Linked DNA regions of Homo sapiens. The protein of the gene in region 1 interacts with the protein of each later gene in a biochemical or structural test. Each region holds a gene or a part of one and is shown in the gene's direction. Other genes may lie near its edges.

Region 1 (3,500 bases):
ATAATGCAGTGTGGGCATGTTTTAGCGCTTTCTGGTTCAAGGGGCCAAGGCCACCCAAGATTCCATCTTTGCATTTAGCTGACCTCAGAAATTCTATTCAAATCAACAAATACCCACTGAGTAAAGGCTGTGTCAAGTTCAGTGCCAGGACCTATAACTGTGATTTTAGATCAGAAGCCAAAGGCCGAGTTAGCTCTAAAATCGGAAGTTTGTTTCACATTATTGGGAGAAAAGTCTTTACCATTGGATTTCGAGTTTTTCTTTGCAATGGAGTGTTCTGTGAAAGGGTGGTGTATGCAAAGCAGTCCCTCAAAGGCCAAAGGAGCTGAGAAACCAAAGGACAAGGCAGGCAAATCCAGTTTGTTGGTACATTGGAATTTATCAGGGGAACTTACGAACAGAAGCATGGTCTTGGACAGCCACAAAACATGTAGATCTCTGTGTTACTCCCCAGACCCAAGGCTGATATACCATAGGGAAAGGGTATATGTGCTCCAGCAAGACAATCGAAGGCAGCCCTCCGCAATAGCCAAGAATGCTATAGTGCATCATAGCCTATAATTTGCGTGATAACATTAAGGTTGACATGTTCTTAGACTAGGGACAGTAAATGAAGTAGAAATCGGGAGGCAATCACAGGACTGGGGCTAATCAGAAGTCAACATCACAGATTACCATCCAAGAGGGAGTCACTTGTGTCTCCACATGGAGTTTACCCCTACTCTCTTCCAGGTAAAAAGGGGGTGTACATGACTGATATTACACCTCAAGGTGTGGCTATGAGAGCTGGAGTTCTGGCTGATGATCACTTGATTGAAGTGAATGGAGAGAATGTAGAGGATGCCAGCCATGAGGAAGTGGTTGAAAAGGTATGCCCCAAAGGGTACTTTTCTTACCCTATCTTCCACTCTATTCTCATTGGAGGTGACAGGAAGACAGGGGTGGTAGGGGACAGCATGAGTTTATGATGGAAAAAATATCCAGTTGAGTTGCCCCTTCATATTAAGGGTGAACAGACTCACACTAGTGGTATAAGCAGTGTTAATATAGGGTTTTGGAATAAAGCCTTCCCTAGTTTCACATGAGGTCTACAAAATTATTAACTTTACCTTTTGGATCTTGTTTGTATCTGATTGGGAGCCCCCTCTGAACTGTTTGATTGAGACAGGGTCTCACTCTGTTACCCAGGCTGGAGTGTAGTGGCACAATCTCGGCTCATTGCAGTCTCGGCCTCCTGGGCTCAGATGATTCTTCTACCTCAGCTTCCTGAGTAGCTGGGACTACAGGTGTGCACCACCGCACCTGGCTAATTTTTATGTGTGTGTGTGTGTGTGTGTGTGTGTGTGTGTGTGTGTGTGTTTTGTAGAGATAGGGTCTCACTATGTTGGCCAGGCTGGTCTTGAACTCCTGAGCTCAAGTGATCTGCCCGCCTTGGCCTCCCAAAGTGCTGGGATTATGGGCGTGTGCCACTGCGCCCTCTGAATTTACAATAAGTTCACTGTTGAGCCGTTAATACTGAAATGCTTTAATAGGAAGTGGGAGATAACCGAGATTTTCCTTTGAGGTCATATGGAACCTTAAAAATTGACCAACCTTCTCTTTGTAGAATGATTTTTTGACGTGGACCCTTACTTTCTTTTCTTTTCCAAACTCCCTTTCTAGCTTTTATCTAGGTACCTTTATGGGTTTTCTGAATTCCAGCTCCTACTTGGGCTCAGTTAGCACCTATGTGGGTAGGTCATACTTAAATAAGGGAAAACAACTATAGAAGTGGAGATAGGGGCCGGGCGCGGTGGCTCACGCCTGTAATCCCAGCACTTTGGGAGGCCGAGGCGGGTGGATCACGAGGTCAGGAGATCGAGACCATCCTGGCTAACAAGGTGAAACACCGTCTCCACTAAAAATAAAAAAAAAAAAATTTAGCCAGGTGCGGTGGCGGGCACCTGTAGTCCCAGGTACTCGGGAGGCTGAGGCAGGAGAATGGCGTGAACCCGGGAGGCAGAGCTTGCAGTGAGCTGAGATAGTGCCACTGCACTCCAGCCTGGGCGAAAGAGTGACACTCCATCTCAAAAAAAAAAAAAAAGGCGATAAATACATATCAGTTAGCTGGTAGGGCATAGTGTAACAGCTTAAACTCAGGCCTTTCATCCCCTATCTTTTGTTGAACCTAGAGACTGTGTGCCTTTATACAGAAACTTTCTTATTCCCCAGCATTGTTCTTGGGGGTTGATGTCATTCCTCATCTGTGTGTGTTGTTACAGGTGAAGAAGTCAGGAAGCCGTGTCATGTTCCTGCTGGTGGACAAAGAAACTGACAAGCGTCATGTTGAGCAGAAGATACAATTCAAAAGAGAAACAGCCAGTTTGAAACTGTTACCCCACCAGCCCCGAATTGTGGAGATGAAGAAAGGAAGCAATGGCTATGGTTTCTATCTGAGGGCAGGCTCAGAACAGAAAGGTAAGGTACAAGAGCAGGAAACTTGGCAGTAACCAGCAAATTCCTCATCCCATTCTGACTCCAGAGTTCCATTAGGTTCCCAACTCCCAGCCAGATGCATGAGCGGCATAGCATAGAAGGCACAGCTGGGTCAGCGTCTATGTCACATGAGGGTCTGATGTTGGGCATCAAAAGTTTCCATAGCATTATGATAAGGCAGAATTTGGGATCTGGGCAACGGTATCCTGGTAAGTTAGCTCTCTGGGGCGGGGGTGGGGGGAAATCCAAATTGGTAGCGTTTGTTTTTGGTACCAAATTGGTAGTATTTTGTGATGTAAATACTCCTCCCATGTCCAGTTTCAACTTACTAACACGATGTCACTGAACACAATGAAGTGTTGCACAGAATTGGCTTTTGTGAGCCGGTGTGAGCCAGTATAGCACACCGCTGGACCTGAGGCCGAGGTGTGGGTGAGGATTTGGGACTCAGAACCAGGAGTCCTCCTTCCTTGCAACTCAATAGGAAGAACACTAGGTTCTTTCAGGGAAGGTAAATACATAAAAGAACATGAGTTCGGGCCGTATAAACTGCTATTCGCCCATAAGTTGTTATTTTCTTTTCACTCTCTGTTTACATTAATTTATCAAATATTAATTTGGTTTGTGTTTTGTAAAAACATCCTCAGTGCCTTGGAGAAAGAATATCATATGAAGCAGACAGGAATTCTTTAGTGAAGGAGTCTACCATTTAGTAGATAAGAGATATGTCCATAATGAAGGGAGATAGAGGTTAAGTACCTTCATACAGGGGCAGATCAAGCACTGTGATAATTCAACGTTAGAGTAAGCTTTTCTCACTAAAAAGGTACCAGAAGCCCTCATAGTAGGGGTGGCACTTGAGTTCAGGCTTTGTAACATGAATAGATTTGGGAAAGTAGACAGAGCTGGGATAAGGAAGATCATTCCAGGAAGGTGGGAATCATGTGAACACAGTCAGGAGACACTGGCACAGTTTAATTGGCACATGATGTGTAGTACAAGAATTCGTTGGAAAGGTAGGTTGG
Region 2 (3,500 bases), on another chromosome or scaffold:
GGGCAGATCACCGAGCATCACTGACCTCCACCTTCCAAATGCCATCCACTCAAAGCAGCCCGGAGACTCAGAGCCCAGGGCCCCCCTCAAATGCACCTCAAGGCATACAAGCTGGGCAGAGGCTCTGATATCAGAAGTCCCAGGACAGCCCAGCCAATGTCCCACTCCAGCCATCTGTGAGCCACACCTGAGCCTCTCTCCTATCTTGTGAGTCTGTGCTCTGTGATAGTGCCTGTGTCGCTGACCACCCCCAGACTTAGATGTCCCATGTGCTTCTGAAACACTCTGCATGTACTTTTATCACGATGCACTGTAACTGTCAATATTCAGATATGCATCATGAAGTGTGAGGGCAAAGGGAACTACACACACGTAGGCACAGGAGTAGCAGTATTGCTGGGTTGCTCTGTGGTTTGGGAGACGTAAAACGTGTAGCCTATGAGAAGAGGGGTCAAGAGATGAGGCCAGATGCCATCTGCAGGAGAATGGATAAATAAACCATGTATCCATAGACTGGACCACGGTACAAGGAAAAATAGCAAACTACTGATGCACACATGGATGAATTTCATGGATGTTATACTGCGCAAAATAAGCCAGGTCTGAAACTCAAGGTGTACACACCTTTTGATTCTGTGTAGATGAAGTTCAAAAACAGGGGAAACTTATCAATGGTGATAAAATCCAGGATAGCGGTTACCCATCTGTGTGTGTGCAGTGAGTGTACTAACTGGAAGAGAATGCTAGAAAACTTTCTGAAGGGCTGGGACAGTTCCATACCTTGACCTGGGTAGTGATGACATTGGTGCATGCATATGCAGAGCCATCAGGCTGTGCTGTGTGCTTCAGATACACACGCTTTCTAAATTTGACTGTCTACATGTTATGCCTTTGTTACAGTGAGAGAGAAGGCAGGAGGAGGCAGGGGGGAGGCTGTGAGCCCTGCTTAGTAATTGGTGTCCAGGCTGGAAGGCATACTTTGGTGGCCCCGTGCGGAGAGTGGATTATGCATATGTCTGAGAGTCGGCCAGGTGCTAAAGGACTCATCTCCACAGGCTGCCTGAGGTTGTGCAGGGGTCTGTGGATGAAGGGGAGAGGCAAGGGATGCTTTGTGCTAGGTCTTCAGTAATGGCATCATTGTCTCCCGGCCCAAAAGCCTGAAGAAAGGGCTGGCATTACATCTCCTACCTGTGCTTTGTGGCACCTGGAACATAATAGGTGCTCAGTAAATGTGTGCAGAAGAAGGAAACGGTAGAACCCATGTTCTATTCCCATCCTGCCACACCAAGGGTCTGGGTGGCAAAGCACAGCCCTCCATTTATTTATTATTTTAATTTTCTTTTATTGTGGCAAGAGCATATAGCATGAGCTCTACCCTCTTAACACACTTTTAAGTGTAAATATCATATCATTAACTACATATCATTAACTATGGATACATATCATGTGATACTGTTGCACATCAGACCCCTAGAACTCATCTATCTTGCCAAACTGAAACTTTATGCCCATTGATTAGCAATTCCCAATTTCCTAGCGCCCTTTCTCCCTGGAAACCACCATCCCACTCTTTGAGTCTACGCATTTGAGTATTTTAGAGACCCCCATGTAAGTGGAATCATGCAGTATTTCTCCTTCTGTGACTGGCTTATTTCGCTTAGCATAACAGCCCTCTATTTAAAGTCAACTCTCTTTACTTGTTGTGGGTTGGGGGTGAGTCCCCATTTTTGTGGCCTAAAAAAAAAATCTTTAACAGGACAGTTAATATTTATTGAGTAATTACTATGAATAAGCAATGAGCTAGGGTTGGGTTTTTTTCATGTTTTTAACATGGAAAGTTTCAAACACATACATTGATAGAGAGAACCCTGTTAGTATAATGAACCCCTGTGTACCTGTGACCCAGCTTCACCCCAAAGCTAACCTAGATTCTTTCCATCCTCACCCACTGTCCCATCACTGTAGATTCTTTTGGATTTTTGTTTGTTTGTTTTTTGAGATGGAGTCTCTCTGTCTCCCAGTCTGGAGTGCAGTGGCGCAATCTCAGCTTACCGCAACCTCCACCTCCCGGGTTCAAGTGATTCTCGTGCCTCAACCTCCCAAGAAGCTGGGATTATAGGTGTGCACCACCATGCCCAGCTAATTTTTGTATTTTTAGTAGAGACGGGGTTTCACCATGTTGGTCAGGCTGATATCAAACTCCTGACCTCAGGTGATCCACCCACCTCGGCCTCCCAAAGTGCTGGGATTACAGGCATGAACCACTGCACCCGGCCACTGTAGATTATTTTGAAGAACATCCAGATACAGTATCCCTTCATCTGTAAATCCTTCAATATATAGTTCTAGAAGATAATAACTGTAAAAAAAAAAAAAAAAAGCCCACAATCCATTATAACACATAAAATCATTTAATATCATCAAATATCTACTTAGTGTTGAAATGTTGCTGGCTGCCTCGTAAATTTTTGGTTGGTTTGTTTGAAGCAGAATCCACAGAAGGAGCACACGTTGCATATGGTCGATTTGCCTATTAGGTTTCTTTACTCGGTAAGCCTCCACTGCTTTTTTTTCTTTCCATTTATTTAGTGAAGACACCAGATTGTCCCCAGGTGTATCCTGTAGTTTGGAGTTTGCATCTCCACAGTGCCATTTAATGTGTCCCTCTGTTCCCTGTACTTCCTGGGTGCAGATTTGGCCTGGAAAGAATTCTTCTTTTCTGTGGTGTCAAGATTGACCAGAATTCATGTGCTGTCAGCCTGCTCTGTCCATTACAAAGTGACCCATCGGCCTTTCACCTGCTGGTTTTGGCAGCCATTGACCATGGCCTGGACCCATTATATCACTGGGGCTTGAAGTGGGGATATTCTAATCCTATCATACCTCCTTCATTTATTCACTAGCATTCTAAAATGATTTCACCACTAGCTGTTTGGTTAAATAGAATCTGTACAGCAAAGGCAGGGAAGATGTTCAATATTCCTCTTTATTTATCAGAGGAAGAGTCAGTTCTCTAGCATTCTTTCCAGACGTGACCACTGAGGCTGTTTGAGTACCATGGTAATGTCATTATTTTTAGACATCCTTGCTGTTCCAACACATCACAGACATCATTGTTTTGGGCTTGGCCAGTGGGTACTCCTTCCAGTTGGCTTCTGAGATCTTTGGCAGAACCTGGAGCATCTTGAGCTCTTCTTTGCTTTCTGATCTGATAAGATGCTTCAGGCTCAGCTTGCATTTTTTCTGCCCTAGACCTGGAATTAGCCATTTCCCTAAAGAGCCCTAGTCTGTTTCAATGGAAGATGACTGAGCTGTTCATTGATACTGAGTTGGTCACTGATTCAATGGACAGATCTAGGAAGTACATTTTATTTTCAGTAGAAGAAAAACACAACACTGATGGGGACTTCTGTCCTTGGACATATATTCCTCCTTCCCCTCCCCTGAAGATCTTGTCCTCTGCCCAGCTCCTGCTGATATGTTTGTCCCAAACATCTGAG
Region 3 (2,707 bases), on another chromosome or scaffold:
TATTTGAGATAGACTTGGGAGAATGGGCAGGATTTAGAAAGTTGATGTGAGGAGCCATTCGAGGCAGAAGGAATAGTAAGAAACAGAGGCAGAAGAGCCGCAAAAGAAAAAAAACATATTTGCAGAACATCTCATAATATTTGACTAATGTAGCTGGGAGCAATGGCTCACACCTGCCATCCCAGCACTTTGGGAGGCCGAGGCAAGTGGATGGCTGGAGCCCAGGAGTTTGAGAGCAGCCTAGACAAAATGGCAAAACCCCGTCTCTACAAAAATACAAAAACGAGCCGGGTGTGGTGGTGTGCACCTGTGGTCCCTGCTGCTTGGGAGGCTGAGGTAGGAGGATTGCTTGAGCCCTGCAGGCGGAGGTTGCAGTGAGCCAAGGTCGGACCATTGCACTCCAGACTGGGTGACAGAACAAGACTCTGTCTCAAAAAAATAAAAATAAAAAAGTGACTAGAGTTTTTTTTTTCTGTAATTAAATATGTGTTGTTATATTAATTGAGAAAATTAACAGACTATTTAGGGTTTAAGTTTTGTAACGTAAGTTCTTTATAAGATCTAAGAGAATTTCTGCATTTTCCTTTGGTTCAAGGTGAGGGAGTCGTAGAATAAGAACATTTCTATGGTGTAAGACACGGTACATGGCGCTCACCACAGATAGTCTCATCTCGTGCTCACCACAGCCCTAAGAGGAAGCTGCTCATTATCCCATCATCCAGGGGAGGAGGCAGGTGCTTGGGGAGATCAAGTAACTTGCCCCGGTTGGACAGTTAGTAAGGAGTGAAGCCATGTTCTCATCCAGACGGCTGACGACAGATCCCTCTTGCCCTTAACTCCCTCTCTATGGGATCAGCAAGAACAGAAGCTAGAGGCCCCCTGAGAGCTGCTGAAGCACTACAGAGGGAATGAAGACTTGAACTTAAGGAAGTTGTGGCTGGCTTGACATCATATGAGATTTCTCAGGTGATGTAGAAGGCTCCAGAACAACAGATGGTGTGCAAGCATTCTGATCTCAGGACTTTTTAAGAGATGAGAAGCCGAACGGTTTGAAAGACAGCAGTTTTGAACATGGAACAGGCCCTGTTCTGGGGAGGTGGGAATGTGTGAACAGCGGATTCGATGTGTCAGGAGCGGCAGTGGACTGGCCCTCCTGGGAAACGGCCTCCACTTCATTTGCAGTGCGGCCGCCGCTGTGACGTCAGGTCATCGGAGCTGCAGAAGCAGCTCCTTCTTTAACAATTGTAACAGAAAACCCACTGTGAACTGGTATTCACTGTATTTTCTAAACGATTCTCTTTCAGGAAACATCTTTGTGGTGAGCTTAGCGGTGGCAGACCTGGTGGTGGCCATTTATCCGTACCCGTTGGTGCTGATGTCGATATTTAACAACGGGTGGAACCTGGGCTATCTGCACTGCCAAGTCAGTGGGTTCCTGATGGGCCTGAGCGTCATCGGCTCCATATTCAACATCACCGGCATCGCCATCAACCGCTACTGCTACATCTGCCACAGTCTCAAGTACGACAAACTGTACAGCAGCAAGAACTCCCTCTGCTACGTGCTCCTCATATGGCTCCTGACGCTGGCGGCCGTCCTGCCCAACCTCCGTGCAGGGACTCTCCAGTACGACCCGAGGATCTACTCGTGCACCTTCGCCCAGTCCGTCAGCTCCGCCTACACCATCGCCGTGGTGGTTTTCCACTTCCTCGTCCCCATGATCATAGTCATCTTCTGTTACCTGAGAATATGGATCCTGGTTCTCCAGGTCAGACAGAGGGTGAAACCTGACCGCAAACCCAAACTGAAACCACAGGACTTCAGGAATTTTGTCACCATGTTTGTGGTTTTTGTCCTTTTTGCCATTTGCTGGGCTCCTCTGAACTTCATTGGCCTGGCCGTGGCCTCTGACCCCGCCAGCATGGTGCCTAGGATCCCAGAGTGGCTGTTTGTGGCCAGTTACTACATGGCGTATTTCAACAGCTGCCTCAATGCCATTATATACGGGCTACTGAACCAAAATTTCAGGAAGGAATACAGGAGAATTATAGTCTCGCTCTGTACAGCCAGGGTGTTCTTTGTGGACAGCTCTAACGACGTGGCCGATAGGGTTAAATGGAAACCGTCTCCACTGATGACCAACAATAATGTAGTAAAGGTGGACTCCGTTTAAAAAAGCACCACGTTCCGGGTGAGATGGACACGCTGCGCAAGGCCTCGCTCTTGACAGATGTCTGGGAAAGCAGAGTGGTGGAGGAAACTTCCAACTTTTACCTGGCTGCTGCCATAGTTTCTGAGCTAACGTGCTGTCAGCATTATAAACCCCTCCAATTCTACTAGTCAAGAGAAGTACAGAATGTATGGAGAGTTACATGTTAACTGAGGAATGCGGTTCAGGGCTGGGGTGAGAGTAAGCTGCTGAATGCATTCAGGGGAAGGAGTGTGCAAACTTTTATTGTAAATGAGTGCCACAAAAGGGGTAATTGCATTCTTCTTCACTTTTTGAAGACTTCTAGCAGAAAAATGAAAGAGAATTTTATTTATAAATGAGCAAATGGAACAATTTTTTTTCTGTAAATGGAACAAACAATGAAAGTGGGGTGAGTGCCTCTTATTACAGAGGGAAAGGCTGAACATAAATCAGTTAATGGCTCATCAACAATCACAACCACAACCAACACCACAAACCTTTCAGCTGGCAGAGTTA
Region 4 (3,500 bases), on another chromosome or scaffold:
GTTAACATAAGATTCAGAGGGGTCTCTACACTACTTAGTAAGAGGATAGAAATAAGGACTAGTTAACAATCCTGGCTTCTCATGGACTTCAGAGATCAGATGGACACCCCCATAAGACATTCATCCATTTTCTGAGTGTTTCCTGTGTATGTGGCATTGTCCTAGAAACTGTGGGGTTGGTAGAAGTGTGATAGAGAGGAGACAAAGAAGGATAAGACAGCATTTGCCTCATGGTCCTGCCGACATGCTTTGGATGTGAGACTGCTCTTCTGTAAAGTTAAATAACACATGACAACAAGACAGATGCCATGGGGTGATATGTGGTTAATTGTCAAGTGATCGTTTCAGGCTATGAGCTCGCAGAAGAGAGGATCCCTGTGGGACATACTACAGGAATTTGAGACTTGCAGAATGTCAAGACTGGAAGTGCACTTGGGAATTGTCTTCATCAAATCACTCATGATAGAGATGAGGATATGAGGCTCAGACAGAAACATGGCAGCCTGCCTTGGACCCTGCTTATTTTTTTTTCTCTTGGAAGAGCCATCCCCTCTTCACACCCATTTTTCTCCTTTCTTCTCAGGTTAACAGAGCATTTTCCTTCTAAGAGGATTTGTGTGTTTTCACTCTGATGAGGTGCCCATTTTATAGGTAGGATAGATTGAGGCCCCAGGATGGGTATCGTATGAGGCTAGTTAGAGAGATTTAGGAATAGATTCTTTCCTTCTGTTCTGGGGCCATACTCTATAGTCAACCTGCCCACCCACCGCGGTGGCTGCAGACAATGAATAACAAGCTAGTTAATGTTGGACAAGCTGTATCTTACTAACCATTGTTAATGGGGGCCTCTTGTGAGTCACTTTGTAATTTGAGTTAGTGAGTGAATCAAGCCTGGTTACATCACAACCAGGAATATTTTGCTCATTTATTTTGATCAGTGTAGTTTGGATTTAATTATTTATAGAAATACTGTTGTTTATAGTACACTAATAAATGTTCTATAGTAAATTTGGAAAAAATAATGGAGTCTAAGAACCTCAGGATTGCACAGATTGTTTTCTGCTATTGAGTGCATGCAGGGAATCAGAGGAAGCCATCCCTGCTTGGTTGAGATGAGAGGGACCTGCAGCAGAGTGGGGCCAGCAGGGTTCTTGGTCAGTAAAACTGTGCCCTTGGCTAAGTAGGGGACTGTTACTTGGCATGCACTGGAAAGAGAAAAAACCTTCTTTAGGGGAAAAACTGGAAATAAAGCTATGTAGGATAATCAAGGATTATATTGGGTTGTGGGATTATTTAGTATGGGTATATGGTACAACTTGTGTGAATTCATATTTGTGGAGAGATTTCATCATGAATGCAATCCTCTTCTGGATTTGTTGAGAACAGATAGACTGGGAACCTGAAACAGGCCACATACTAAATAAGATCAATGGATTTTGCAGCCAGGTGCCTGGGTTCAAGTCCTGCCTCTGTTTCTTAATAGCTGTGTGACATTGGGCAAGTTGTTACCCTCTCTGCTGTTTCTTCATCTGAAAAAAGGGAGTGATGATATAGTATCTCTACCTTGGGCTGTTGTAAGAATTAAGTGAGACTGTACAGGGCAGAGTGCTTAAAAGAAGTGCCTGACCCATTTGTAGCAAGCACTCAAGATACTTTAGTTTAGTTGTTATTTTTATATCTGGAAGGGGCCTTCCCTTAATTTTCAGATGGAAATGTTGAAGCAGAGGAAGGAGGCACTTGCTCAAGGTTTCCCAGTGAGCTGATGGCAAGGCCTTGGCTAGAACCCAGTTCTCATCAAGATGCTCATTTCAACCACCTCCCATAGTTCATGTCCCCAGTCAATGAGTCTTTGCCATGTCTATCTTTTATGTCGTGCTAAAGTAGACATTGAAAAGGATCTAGAAGTGAATGACTGGGGACCTGTATTCTTGAAATTCATACTCAGAATTTGTAGTAGAAACAGAATAATATTCATTAGATGATTACACTAATAAGCTATGAATAAATTTAACATTATTTCGGGGCTTTTATTGCATGGAGAGTTAAGGGATCCAGAAAGATGAAGAGTAGCTTCTCTCAGAATTGGCATCCATGATACAACTCACAGCTAATCAAGGGAGACTTCTTGAGGGAAGTGAGTAAAGTGTGTAGCTACTAGAACATTGGAGAACACTGGGTTGCTGGGGCTGGTTGACAAGCAGATCCCATTGTGCCAAAGACTCATGTATGCCAAAGTCATGGGCTAGACCTCAATGTTACATTTTTCCTTTCCTCTTCTGTATTTGTGCCTGTTGTGAAATGGGCATATCACATGGATTGGAGCTATCTGTAGAATATCTGCAGCCTGTTCCCCAGAATTATCACACTGGTACAATCCACTACTTTGTGGTGATCTATACCCATAGAGTTGTAGGCTTGAGTTCCCTTTTTGCCTTCACCCTGTGTACCAAGAGTGGAACCTGAGAGCCCTACATAGACACTAGAGGGAGTGTTGCCCTGGGAAAGAAGTGAAAATAAATAGGATGAAATAACAAGACAATGCTGTACCAGGAATTGTTCCGAAGGAGGGAAGATGAAAAGTAGACTGTAAGTGAATTGTGTAGGGGTTGTATGATGATCCATAGATGAATAATCATTTGGCAGCAGGACAGTTTTCAATCCTGGGGGGGGCTGATCATTCAGCCTCTTCCTACAGAAAAAAGGGGAATAGATACAAACACGTTCATTCAGCAGTTAGATACTCAGACCATTAATGACCAAACTAACACTCTACAAATAGATTCAGCTGGAAGTGATGCTTAGGCTAGGTTCTCCCATTGCTTCTGTATTTCCTTCCTTTTTGCTTCCTTGCTCTCTTGTATCTGGTGGTTAAGTCAATAGGTGCTTATTGAGTTGAACAGAATAAATACTTGCTTAAATACTTAAAAGTGCCTGGGTAAAGAACAAGTGTCTTGGGGATGGAGTAGTGTCTGGCCTGCTGTTGCTGGCCTGGGATCTGCACTCTGGGACATTGCGGCTGTCTCTCACAGGCTCTCAGGTCCCACGTGCCTGACATCCTCCCAGAAGCCTTTTTGACATCTATGGTGAGGTAGGCAGTTTCTCATTCAGATGGTTAGAATCAGGTTACAGATTACACTGCTGCATAAGAAATAAACTTTTTCTTTTAAAAATCTGTTCTCAGTGGGAGATGAAGAACAATGACTGAGTTGAACATTTTCAAGACTAGAAAAATAGCTCAAGCTGCCATATCTGAATGTGATTACACATAGTGGGGGAACTTGTCTACAATAAGAGTTCTGAGACAATGAAGCTGGTGACACAGATAAACTTGTTTTCCAGAGTGGTGGTGGAAGAGGAGGGTATCCTTAGTGGTGAAAGAGTTGCTTATCTCACTGTGTTGCTTTCAGTGTTATTCATGCTTGAAAGCAAACTTTTGTTTGAAAGATTTCTCAAAACTCTAAAGCGTCTTTTCTGTCATGAGAAGGTCCCTAAGCCACAGC
Region 5 (3,500 bases), on another chromosome or scaffold:
GCTTAAGGGAAGAAATAATCTGAGAAATGAGAGGTAAGCTGAAAAACTAAGCCTTGACCAGATGCAGAAGAGTGTATAAGCCACGTTTGAAAGTCTTTTTCCTGAGAACAGTTGAAGGGTTTTAAGTGGGAAAGTCACTTGTTCAGATTGGATTTTTGAAAGACGATTCTGGTGTGTTGTGGAAACTGGCTGGGACATTGCACGTCAGACCAGATGATACTGTAGTAATCTCAGGTCATAGTGGCCTGAACTGACAACAGAGTTGGGGACAAATGAATGAGTTCCAGAGGCATTTAGGAAGATTTTGGAGGAGTTGGTCATTGGGTATGAGAAGATGGGGTTGGAGAAATGTAAAATAACACCTGTGTCTCTGCCTGGCTTCTTGTGGGAATGGTGCCACCATTCGTTGAGTTAGGGTGCATTTAGATGAGGCACAGGTGTGGGGTTGAGATTATGAGTTCAGTTTTGGAATCATTGAATCCTGAGATATCCAGGTGAAAGGCTGGAGTAATTACAGGTCCGGTCTGGAGATAAAGACTTAAGAGTTACCAGTAGTTCCAAATTTACCAAATTTTTTTTTGTTCTTTTTGAGACGGAGTCTTGCTCGCCAGGCTGGAGTGCAGTGGCACAATCTTGGCTCACTGAAACCTCTGCCTCCCGGGTTCAAGCGATTCTCCTGTCTCAGCCTCCCGAGTAGCTGGGATTACAGGCATGTGCCACCACGGCCAGCTAATTTTTGTATTTTTAGTAGAGACGAGGTTTCACCATGTTGGCCAAAATGGTCTTGTTCTCTTTACCTTGTGATCCACCCACCTCGGCCTCCCAAAGTGCTGGGATTACAGGTGTGAGCCACCACACCTGGCAAGATTTTCCTTTTTAAGTTGATTTCTTTGGTAAGGTGTCCAAAGATGGCATACCTGTACTATGCAGTGCAAGGTGCTGTTCAGTGCTATTAAGGGAATACTGTACTATTTTATAAAGATAAGGCCATATACTCTCATTACCATAATGATTATTAGAAGTACCAAAGGAGTTTGAGGGAGGAGAGACACTGATTTTAACTGTGTTGATCAGAGAAAGCTTTGTTGAGGACTTTGTATTTGAGTGGAACCCTACAGATTGGGCAGAATGGTGGTGAGTAGACTCATGGCAGGCTGTATTAGCTAGAGTAAGGTGGAGGAGGACTAGGTGTGTCCAGGGAGGATTGAGGGGAGGTTGCACACGTGTACAGGAGCTGAGTGCCTGCTGAGTAGTTTGTATTGCTATGGTAGACGGTGGGGACCTGTTGAAAATTTGATGGCAGTGCAGTGAGAATTTTGATATGGCAGTGGTGCAGAGGAGGACTTGGTGGGGGGGCACTGATTAAAGGAAGAATTGAGAGACAGGCAGGCCAATTAGGGGATAAAAGGACTGTTATGAAAGGTCCTGCTATAAGGCTATGGCCATGCAACTAGGGACCAGGTTTTTAAGGTGAATGATGGGAATCTTCAACCAAAAGGAAGATGACGCATTCCAGGTCAGACTTACTGAATTGGAGAATTTGGTGGGACTTGGCAATGGAACTGGTTAGCAGGCAGCTGGCAGTGTGGATCTGCAGCTTGAGAAAGAGGTCAGAAGTGGAGATAAAGACTTGGAAGGCTTCCACGTGGAAGTGATAGTCGAAGGTAAGGGAGAGGATGAGGTCACCATGGGACTGTAAAGAATAGAAAAAAGAACTGAGAATGAGACCTTGGGGACGGGAAGAGAAAGAGGACCTGGGAAAGGATAAAAAGAACGGTGGCTCTGAAGGACAGTCATTCCTCATCACAGAAGATGAGGGAAGAACTGTTCGATCACAGGTGTGGGCAGCAGTTCAAATGCTGCACAGGAAGAAAAGTATTTGGTTATGGCAACATTCCCGAACCTGGTGTTGGGAGGTGTTCCAGTGTTGGTATGGGAATCATTCGATGGCGCCAGCACCGCCCAGTAGGAACAGAATGCAAGCCACGTGTGTTATTTTAAATTTTCCAGGAGTCACATTAAAAAAGTAAACAGTCCAGGCACGGTGGCTCACACCTGTAATCCCAGCACTTTGGGAGGCCGAGGTGAGCGGATCACAAGGTCAGGAGATCGAGACCATCCTGGCCAACATGGTGAAACCCCGTCTCTACTAAAAATACAAAAATTAGCCGGGCGTGGTGGCGGATGCCTGTAATCCCAACTACTTGGGAGGCTGATGCAGGAGAATTGCTTGAACCTGGGAGGCTGAGGTTGCAGTGAGCCGAGATCACGCCACTGAACTCCAGCCTGGGTGACAGAACAAGACTCCATCTCAAAAAAAAAAAAAAGTTAAAAATAAAAAGAAATAAGTGAAATTAATTTCAGTAATATCGACTTTATTTATGTAAAATATTGTTAATTCAACATATTATTGATTTTAAAATGTTAACGCAACATTTTACGTTTTTTTTGTACCAAGACTTTGAAACCTGGTGTGTATCTTAGGCTTACAACACATTTCAGTTCAAACATAAAATTTTCATTGGAAATACTTGATTTGCTTTTAGATTTCATAAAACTTACTACTTTTTCATGGAAAAGTAGGTTCACATACCCACGTTTTTCCAAACATAAAAAAGTTTTCCAGCAATGGAAATGTCAGTTTTTAAATTTAAATTAATTAAAATACAGTTAAAAATTCAGTTTGAGTGGCACTAGTCTCATTGCAAGTGCACAGTAGCCACGTGCGGCTACTCTGTTGGACAGCACAGGGAGGGTTATGCGAAGTAAAATAGGCTACTGTACAGCGGATGTGCACTCTGAAAATACCCAAAATGGTTTAGCACCATCGCAAAGCATTTCACAGGATTAGTGTTTCTTAGAATACATGTTGGCTTATCCTAGTGGAATTTTTAGAATTTAGAAGGGTCAAATCTCTAATTTTGAATGTGAGGAGACAAACTTTTTATGAAAATACACAGATTCCAAAATTTGAAATAGTGTTTGGGCTACAGTCAGCAGAATGGTACATTGGTAGAAGTTCCTAAACATACCGGTTTGTGCCATGTTTCTGAAATGCTTGGTGCAGAGGCTTACACTTAAAAACAGATCCAGCAGGAGGGGTGGGAGCGTTCCTGTTACTGTTTGTGAGTTTCTTTTGCACTCCCTGGAGTCAGTGAGGTGGTGGCTTCAGGTGGGGGGATGAAGTTAGGATTGCTTTAAGTCAGTGTCCCAGCGTCCCTGTGTGGTGGAGGTGTGAGGTGGGAGAGGGTGCCACCAGGCTAATTATGTTGTGCTTGTCTCTCACTTTTCTTATCTCACTTTTCTCCGTTTAGCCCCGTTTAGTCATTGTGTACTTTTTGCCGACCTGGGCCAATTGAACGCATATTTACTAAATATGGGTGGGTTTTTTCAGTTTATAAAAAGCAGGTTCAAAGATTTTCATTTAATTATCTCATTGATTGAGACTGCTTTGCAGCTGTTAACTAGACCATCTAAGTGATAACCAGTAAAGATAGAAA
Region 6 (3,754 bases), on another chromosome or scaffold:
CATCAACAAGTTCGTGAATAGCGTGATCAACACGCTGAAAAGCACTGTATCCTCCCTGCTGCAGAAGGAGGTGAGTCTCCCACTCCTTGGAGCCCAGATCCAGGCCTGGTGGGGGCAGGTGGGGGAATTTGCAGGCCTGGCTGTATCCTCTGAGCACTTTTCCTTCGGAGGTGAAAGCTTCTCCTTAGGAGGTCAGCTGGAGCTTCCTCCTCTACTAATCAGCCTGGTGGGTAGCAGGGTAGAGCAGAGGCCTGACATTAGCTGAAATTGCCAGGTCCCAAACTTGAGCCTCTCACCATATCCACGCACTACCAATATGCTTTTGTAGCTAACATCTTCAACACAATTTTACTTAAATATGTTTCTTTAGAAGCATTTATTTTTAAAAATAAAACTTTATATCCCTATCATAAATAGAAAATTAATATCACATATCATACAATCAATGGACTTATAAAATAGTTTTAATTTTTTTTCCATCTGTGCATCATCCAAAACCATAGGTACCATGTGCAGGATTACTAGGCCCAAAGTTGCAGAGATTCTAAATCAGTCATTCTGGAAGCAGACCCAGGAATGTGGGTTTATAAAAGAAAAATCCTCCGGATGGCTCTGTGACCCACTGAACCGGAGTTTAGTTATATTCCAAAAGCGATCCTCCACCAGCTTCAGCCTCAGCTGGGTGCTTGATAGGAATGCGGAATCTCAGGCCACACCCCAGACCTGCTGAATTGCAATCTGCGGGGAACTGTGTACACACAGGAGCAAGAGATACTCCGCTCTACAACCTCAGGGCAAATGCCTCAGGGCACCATTTGACCCTTTAAAATTCCAGGGTTCCAAAGTTCAACATGGGAATGTTAACAATCTAGAATGTAGATTTTTGAGGTCCTAGAATTCTAGTGTTCTAAGGTGTTAGGATTCTAACACCCTAGGGTTTCCAGATTTAAGACTGCTGGGATCCCATTGTTCTAAAATCCTAAGGTTCAGGCCAGGCGCGGTGGCTTATGCCTGTAATCCCAGCTCTTTTGAAGGTCAAGGTGGGCAGATCACTTGAGGTCAGGAGTTCAAGACCAGCCTGGCTAACATGGTGAAACCCTGTCTCTACTGAAAATACAAAAATTAGCCAGGCATGGTGGCATGTGCCTGTGAACCCAGTTTCTTGAGAGGCTGAGGCAGGAGAATCACTTGAATCTGGGAGGCGGAGGTTGCAGTGAGCAGAAATCGTACCACTGTACTCCAGCCTGGGCAAGACAGTGAGATTCTGTCTCAGAAAAAAAAAAAAAAATACAATAAAACAAAATAAAATCCTAAGGTTCAAAGATTCTAAGATCCCTAGAAATGAGCTCATCTGTGGGTGGCAAGCAATTTGTTCTCAGCTGAGAAGAATGATCTGTTCTTCCTCCTACTCCTGACCCTCCTCTTCCTCCTTTCTCCGCTGTCAGATATGTCCACTGATCCGCATCTTCATCCACTCCCTGGATGTGAATGTCATTCAGCAGGTCGTCGGTAAGTCAATGGGGAAGTGGGGACCTTCTGAGGCAGGCATGGAGCTCTGTGCCCACCCCATAAGCAGTTCTGGTCAGGGGACCCTGGAGAAGCAGAAGGACCCACTGTCCTAAGCAAATTGGGAGCCATGGCTTCCCCTCCACAGGCACCCGGGGGCTCCCTTTGGCTTTTGGGTCTACAGGCATGGCTGGGGTTGCTGGGGAGAAATGGAGTAAGTAAAGCTGTCAAGACCCTGGAGGTGACCCTTCTATGAAAATAGCCACAAGTCAGCCAGGCGCAGTGGCTCACACTTGTAATCCTAGCACTTTGCGAGGCTGAGGTGGGCAGACCACTTGAGTTCAGGAGTTTGAGACCAGCCTGGGTGACACGGTGAAACCCCATCTCTACTAAAAAATACAAAATTAGCCAGGCGTGGTGGCATCCACCTGGAGTCCCAGCTACTCGGGAGGCTGAGGCGGGAGGATTGCTTGAGCCTAGGAGGCGGACATCGCAGGTAGCCGACATCATGCCACTGCACTCCGGCCTGGGTGACAGAGTGAGACCGCAATCTCAAAAAAAGAAAAAAAAAAAGAAGAAGAAGAAAGGAAATAGCCACAAGTCCAGTCCCTTAGGCAGTCACTTTGTGCTCTGTACACACTATCTCACTGGATCCTTGCAACAACCCTGTGGGGAAGGTACTGTCATTGTACCCACTTTACAGATGAACAAACTGAAGCTCAGAGAGGTGGAGCAACATCCCTGGGGTCCCACAACTGTCAGGTTACCGGCTGGAGAGCGGCATCTTTTGGAGTCTGGTCTCTATTCAATTCCAGTGGCAGAGACTAAGGCCTGCTATTGATTTTGTTTCTTCAGATAATCCTCAGCACAAAACCCAGCTGCAAACCCTCATCTGAAGAGGACGAATGAGGAGGACCACTGTGGTGCATGCTGGTGAGGAGCCAGTCTCTGTGCCCCAATGCACAGGGGCCTATGGTGAAGTAAAAGTCAAGCGTGGCTTCCCTTATTTTTGTGTTAGAAGACTGTGCCTTCATCTCAGTCATAGATTGAGCCCTGGCCCCCATCCCAGGCTAGGCCCTGATTCTGGTCACACTCTGAACACTGAGCCTTAATCACTGAACTCTGATTCTGGCCCCAGACTGAGCCTGGATCCTAGTCACAGACTGAGCTTTGATGCCAGTTATTGACTGAGCCTTAGTCTTGGTCACAGAATGAGCCCCAACCTTGGTCTCAAATGGATATCCATGATTCTGATCACATATTGGGCCCTGAACCTGGCTCCAGTAGTGGCCTCAATCAATCTTTTCACATCTACCATTGTTCTGAAGGAGGGTGAGGGGAATGAAGATGAGTCAGTGCCAGGTGCTAATGAAAGACCCCAAACCACAGGTGCCAGTTTCTTCTTCCCAGGACTTAAACCGCATGGGGTATTGTGGGAAAGAGCTGGGACACTGGAGCCAGGTCAACTTGGGTCCCATCAAGTGCCCAGTGGATGACTGACAGCTGGGTGTAAGGGCAGCCTAGCAGCAAATGTCCTAACCCCCTTGGTCTCATTCCAGATTGGTTCCCAGTGGCTTGCCCCACCCCCTTATAGCATCTCCCTCCAGGAAGCTGCTGCCACCACCTAACCAGCGTGAAAGCCTGAGTCCCACCAGAAGGACCTTCCCAGATACCCCTTCTCCTCACAGTCAGAACAGCAGCCTCTACACATGTTGTCCTGCCCCTGGCAATAAAGGCCCATTTCTGCACCCTTCTGTGTGGCTTGTTGCATTCCCTCCATTTGGGATTTGTTGGTGGGAACTGGGGAGGGAGGTTGGGGGCTGCAACTAGGGTGGGAGAGACCTGGATCCAGAGCTAGAAGGCTCAGTGGGAATATCCAGCCACATCTCCTGGTTCTATAAAGGGGGCCACTGAGACAGAGAGGGCAACAAACTAGCCCAAGTCACACAGCCAATCTGTGGCAATAGCAGACCCCTGATCTATCCATTCATGCATTCAACAGGTATGTAGTGAACACCTACTCTGTGCCAGACAGGCAATGGGAACTGGAAAGTCACATTCTGGGGACAGCCCCACCCAGCACTTTCCTCCATTCCTCTCCAGGGGCCCTGAGGATTCTTGGAGAATCAGGGGACACCTAGCCTGACTGGAGTCAGGAGTATGAGACAGAGTGATGCAGGGTCAGAGGCCTGTGGCCCCATCTCCACCTGCCCTGTTAGCCCTGCTGCCCTCTAGGGGTCCCACTGGA
Region 7 (3,500 bases), on another chromosome or scaffold:
TCCCAAACCCATCATCCCATTTCTCTGTCCCCTTGATCTCTGAGAGGTAAAGCATGACTGTAACCATTTTTCAGATGGAAAGACTGAGTCAGGGACAGGAAGTGATTGCCTGGACCCCACAGGAGAGCTGGGATTGGGGCCAGTGCCCAGGCCCCTGCTCCCTTCCCTTGCCTGCACCCTCTATCTTCAGGGCCAGGCTGGACTCTGACTGATCCAAACACTTGGCCACGGAAACCTTTTGCCTGCCTGCCTGTGGCTGTCCCCAGGTGTCCCTGGCTATCTCCTTTATTTGGATACATTGTGTTCCCAAGCTGGTGAGCAAGCTGGATGTCAATAAACAAGCTGATTTCCTCTTGGGCTTTTGTCATTCCCCAGGGACATGTAGTTTCTGCGGCTGCCTCTCCTCACCCTCAGAGCATCATGAATGTTAAGCATCTCCACTCCTCGCCACTACCCCTCCCTCACCCGCAGGTCAGGTGGAAGGCAGGCTGTAAACTAAAGCTCCAGTGCACAGGGGGAGCTTTCCATGGTACTCGCGGACACCTCTGCCTCCAGATGGGGAGTGTTGGGGTGGAATGGCAAAGGCTTCACCTGCTTGATTGTCAAGCCTCTCTTTCCTCCAAAGGCCCAGAAGCTGAGACTTTCTTCTGTCTCTGCCCTTCCCAGGAATCTTACTTCTCCACAGTGAAGATTATCTACACCGTGGGCCATAGCATCTCTATTGTAGCCCTCTTCGTGGCCATCACCATCCTGGTTGCTCTCAGGTTTGTCATCCTCATCACCAGCTCAAGAACCTTCCTTGGCTCCTTATTTCCCAGAGGGTCAAGTCTGCTTCCTTGCCTACATAGCCATGAACTTCCCAGATCTAGGCGCCATACCCATGTCTAACTTTCCCTTCCCTTTTCCCCACCATGTAGACCCATCTCTTCAAACACCAGAACTCATTCCTACCTCTGCCCCTTTGCTCACGTGGTGCTCATTCTATTTGCTTGGAATTCCTCATTGTTCTCAGTGTATTTATAACTGAGAAAGCCCAGCTCCTATCTGCATCTGACAGTCCTCTGCCTCCTGCCCAGAGCCCCTCTTGACTGTTATAACTCTCTGACCACTGTCCCCTTTAAGACCCCACCCCCTCCTCCAGCCTTCGAAGTCTGAGCACTGCATCTGGCCTGTGCTGTTCTTGGTCTCATGGGGATGAGTGTCTCTGATCATCCAGGGGGCTCCCATGGGCAGTACCTGCCGTTTCTGCCTCTGTTCCCTGAGACTGTGAGCACCCTCGAGGCAGGGACCAGATATTCCTCTCTTTCCACACTTACCCTGAGCACAGGAATGGTTGCTCAGCTGTCCTGCAAGGGTTAAACTGAAGCCTCAAGTTCAGCTCAATTCAATTCAGTTTGATTGCATCCAGTTTGATTCGATTCACCTCCTGCCCTGTTCAGCCCAGTTGCAGCACACCAGAATCCCCTCTCCCTGCTTGCTTCTTGTTCCTCATTTCTCCCATTACCCCCAGGAGGCTCCACTGCCCCCGGAACTACGTCCACACCCAGCTGTTCACCACTTTTATCCTCAAGGCGGGAGCTGTGTTCCTGAAGGATGCTGCCCTTTTCCACAGCGACGACACTGACCACTGCAGCTTCTCCACTGTAATGGCCATGGGTGAAGGGGCTGGGCAGGTGGGGGAGAGAGGAGGTAGGATTACAGACCCAGATGTGCCTGCGTCAGGCTTCCCTGCCCTGTGGGCTGACCCTGGGGCTCCCGCATGGCCAATTACAGAACAGGAAAATGCTCCTTTCCCATGTCACCCCCTAAGTCCTCACGCCTTTCCTGGACTGTGGTGTCGATCCATGTCATTTCCCATATTGCATGCTCTACTCCGCGTTCTGTAGTCCAACCTAGACCACGTTTCACTATGCACAGCCTTTTCCTTTCCTTTCACCCCTCCCTGAGCACTCATAGGTCTGTGCTGGGGGTGTGTACGCAAGGGGCTGGGAGGAGCTGGGTCCCTCCTTCAGGAAGAGCCCATGGGACAGAATGCACACAGATTAGGGGACTCCCAAGTGGAGGAAGCTGAGAGCTAGGAGAGAACGAGAGGGGGCTTCAGGGAGGAGAGGACCCTGGAGCTGTATTGGCAGCAACAATAGGGAGATGGGGAAGGAGAACATTTCAAGAGGAGAGACCAGGGTGAACAAACTCTCAAAGACAGGAGGACCTGGGCCATGTCCAAGAAACTGGGAAGGCACCATGGGAGAGATGGGGTGGAGACAATAAGAGGCAATTGAAATTAAAGGGAAGTTGGGCAGAATGTGGAGACCCAGCACCTGCTAGATCCTCTGCAAGTGTGCTGGAAATGAACAGCGAAATCAGGGAGCAAACTAACACATGACCTCAATTAACTGATGAAAGAATTAATCATACTTCATACTGAGCACTTATTTTGTGCCAGGCATTGCACTAAGTGCTTTACATATGTAGTTGTCCCTTGAACAATGTGGGTTTAGTGGTGTTGACCCCCCTTTCAGCTGAGAATTCAAGTATAACTTTTGTGTCCCCCAAACTTAACTATTGATTGCCTACTGTTGACCTGAAGCCTTACCAATAACATAAATGACCGATTAACACATATTTGTCTGTTACACGTGTTATATACTGTATTCTTACAATAAAGTAAGCTAGAGAAAAAATTTTAAGAAAATCATAGAGAAAATAAAAATTGGCTGTTTTTAAATGGAAGTGGATCATCATGAAGGTCTTCATCCTCATCGTCTTTATGTTGAGTAGCCTGAGGGGGAGGAGGAAGAGAAGTTGATCTTGCTGTCTTAGGGGTGACAGAGATGGAAGAAAATCTATGTGTAAATGGACTTCAGCAGTTCACACCTTTGTTGTTCAAGAGTCAGCTGGCATTATCTCTTGAATTTTTAAAACAGCTTGAAGAAGAAAGCATCACTTTAATCCCATTTTGTAGAGGAGAGACAGTTGGCAAGGTCACCCAGTGGCACACGGGTGGGGCTGGGATCAAACCTGGGCCAACTGAACTCAGAGGTGGTCCTGCTCCCCTGCCGGCAGGTGATCAAGTCATGCAGTGAGTGAGTGAATGCACGGGTGCCTGTGTGTGTTTTTTGCAAGACAGAGCTGTGGCTGAATAAGTCACAGCTCTAGGGATTGACTTCAGCTCAGGAAGGATGGGGGTAAGTGAAAATAGAAGCAAGTCTTAGGCAGTTTCCATTTAATCCTTATGATGAGGACTTGATCTAGGTATTGGAGGTTTTTCCTTTTACAGATGAAAAGCTAAGGTGTGAGGAGATTTGCACAGGAAATAGATAGTAAATTAGAAGCCAGGCTGTCTAGATACCAAATCTGTGCTCTTAACCCTCACTGTATATCACCACATCCCCTCTTGGGTGGCCCAAGGAGCTGCAGGTCCCAGCCTAACATGGAGGGGCCTGGAGGTTCTGTATCTGAGTAGGGTAGAGGAGACTGGGATGGGGCTCCAGTGGGTGTCC

Evidence for each region.
Region 2: the proteins of PDZK1 (region 1) and ADRA1D interact in a test that uses a peptide from one of them, tested with the Homo sapiens proteins (one large-scale study listed by IntAct).
Region 3: the proteins of PDZK1 (region 1) and MTNR1A interact in a test that uses a peptide from one of them, tested with the Homo sapiens proteins (one large-scale study listed by IntAct).
Region 4: the proteins of PDZK1 (region 1) and SORCS3 interact in a test that uses a peptide from one of them, tested with the Homo sapiens proteins (one large-scale study listed by IntAct).
Region 5: the proteins of PDZK1 (region 1) and TNRC6B interact in a test that uses a peptide from one of them, tested with the Homo sapiens proteins (one large-scale study listed by IntAct).
Region 6: the proteins of PDZK1 (region 1) and BPIFA2 interact in a test that uses a peptide from one of them, tested with the Homo sapiens proteins (one large-scale study listed by IntAct).
Region 7: the proteins of PDZK1 (region 1) and GHRHR interact in a test that uses a peptide from one of them, tested with the Homo sapiens proteins (one large-scale study listed by IntAct).

Annotation. Positions count from the first base shown.
Region 1 is NC_000001.11:145,679,869-145,683,368, reverse strand, and holds part of PDZK1 (Na(+)/H(+) exchange regulatory cofactor NHE-RF3), read left to right. Parts: intron 1-732; coding exon 733-869; intron 870-2,261; coding exon 2,262-2,457; intron 2,458-3,500. UniProt on the Homo sapiens protein: A scaffold protein that connects plasma membrane proteins and regulatory components, regulating their surface expression in epithelial cells apical domains.
Region 2 is NC_000020.11:4,239,288-4,242,787, reverse strand, and holds part of ADRA1D (alpha-1D adrenergic receptor), read left to right. Parts: intron 1-3,500. UniProt on the Homo sapiens protein: This alpha-adrenergic receptor mediates its effect through the influx of extracellular calcium.
Region 3 is NC_000004.12:186,533,155-186,535,861, reverse strand, and holds the end of MTNR1A (melatonin receptor type 1A), read left to right. Parts: intron 1-1,304; coding exon 1,305-2,173; 3' UTR 2,174-2,207; downstream 2,208-2,707.
Region 4 is NC_000010.11:104,647,790-104,651,289, forward strand, and holds part of SORCS3 (VPS10 domain-containing receptor SorCS3 precursor), read left to right. Parts: intron 1-3,500. UniProt on the Homo sapiens protein: Plays an important role in modulating synaptic transmission and plasticity in the hippocampus, probably by affecting the trafficking and localization ofAMPA-type glutamate receptors in the postsynaptic density.
Region 5 is NC_000022.11:40,184,425-40,187,924, forward strand, and holds part of TNRC6B (trinucleotide repeat-containing gene 6B protein), read left to right. Parts: intron 1-3,500.
Region 6 is NC_000020.11:33,178,159-33,181,912, forward strand, and holds the end of BPIFA2 (BPI fold-containing family A member 2 precursor), read left to right. Parts: coding exon 1-70; intron 71-1,445; coding exon 1,446-1,509; intron 1,510-2,361; coding exon 2,362-2,402; 3' UTR 2,403-2,439; intron 2,440-3,065; 3' UTR 3,066-3,254; downstream 3,255-3,754. UniProt on the Homo sapiens protein: Has strong antibacterial activity against P.aeruginosa.
Region 7 is NC_000007.14:30,970,453-30,973,952, forward strand, and holds part of GHRHR (growth hormone-releasing hormone receptor precursor), read left to right. Parts: intron 1-666; coding exon 667-764; intron 765-1,510; coding exon 1,511-1,643; intron 1,644-3,500.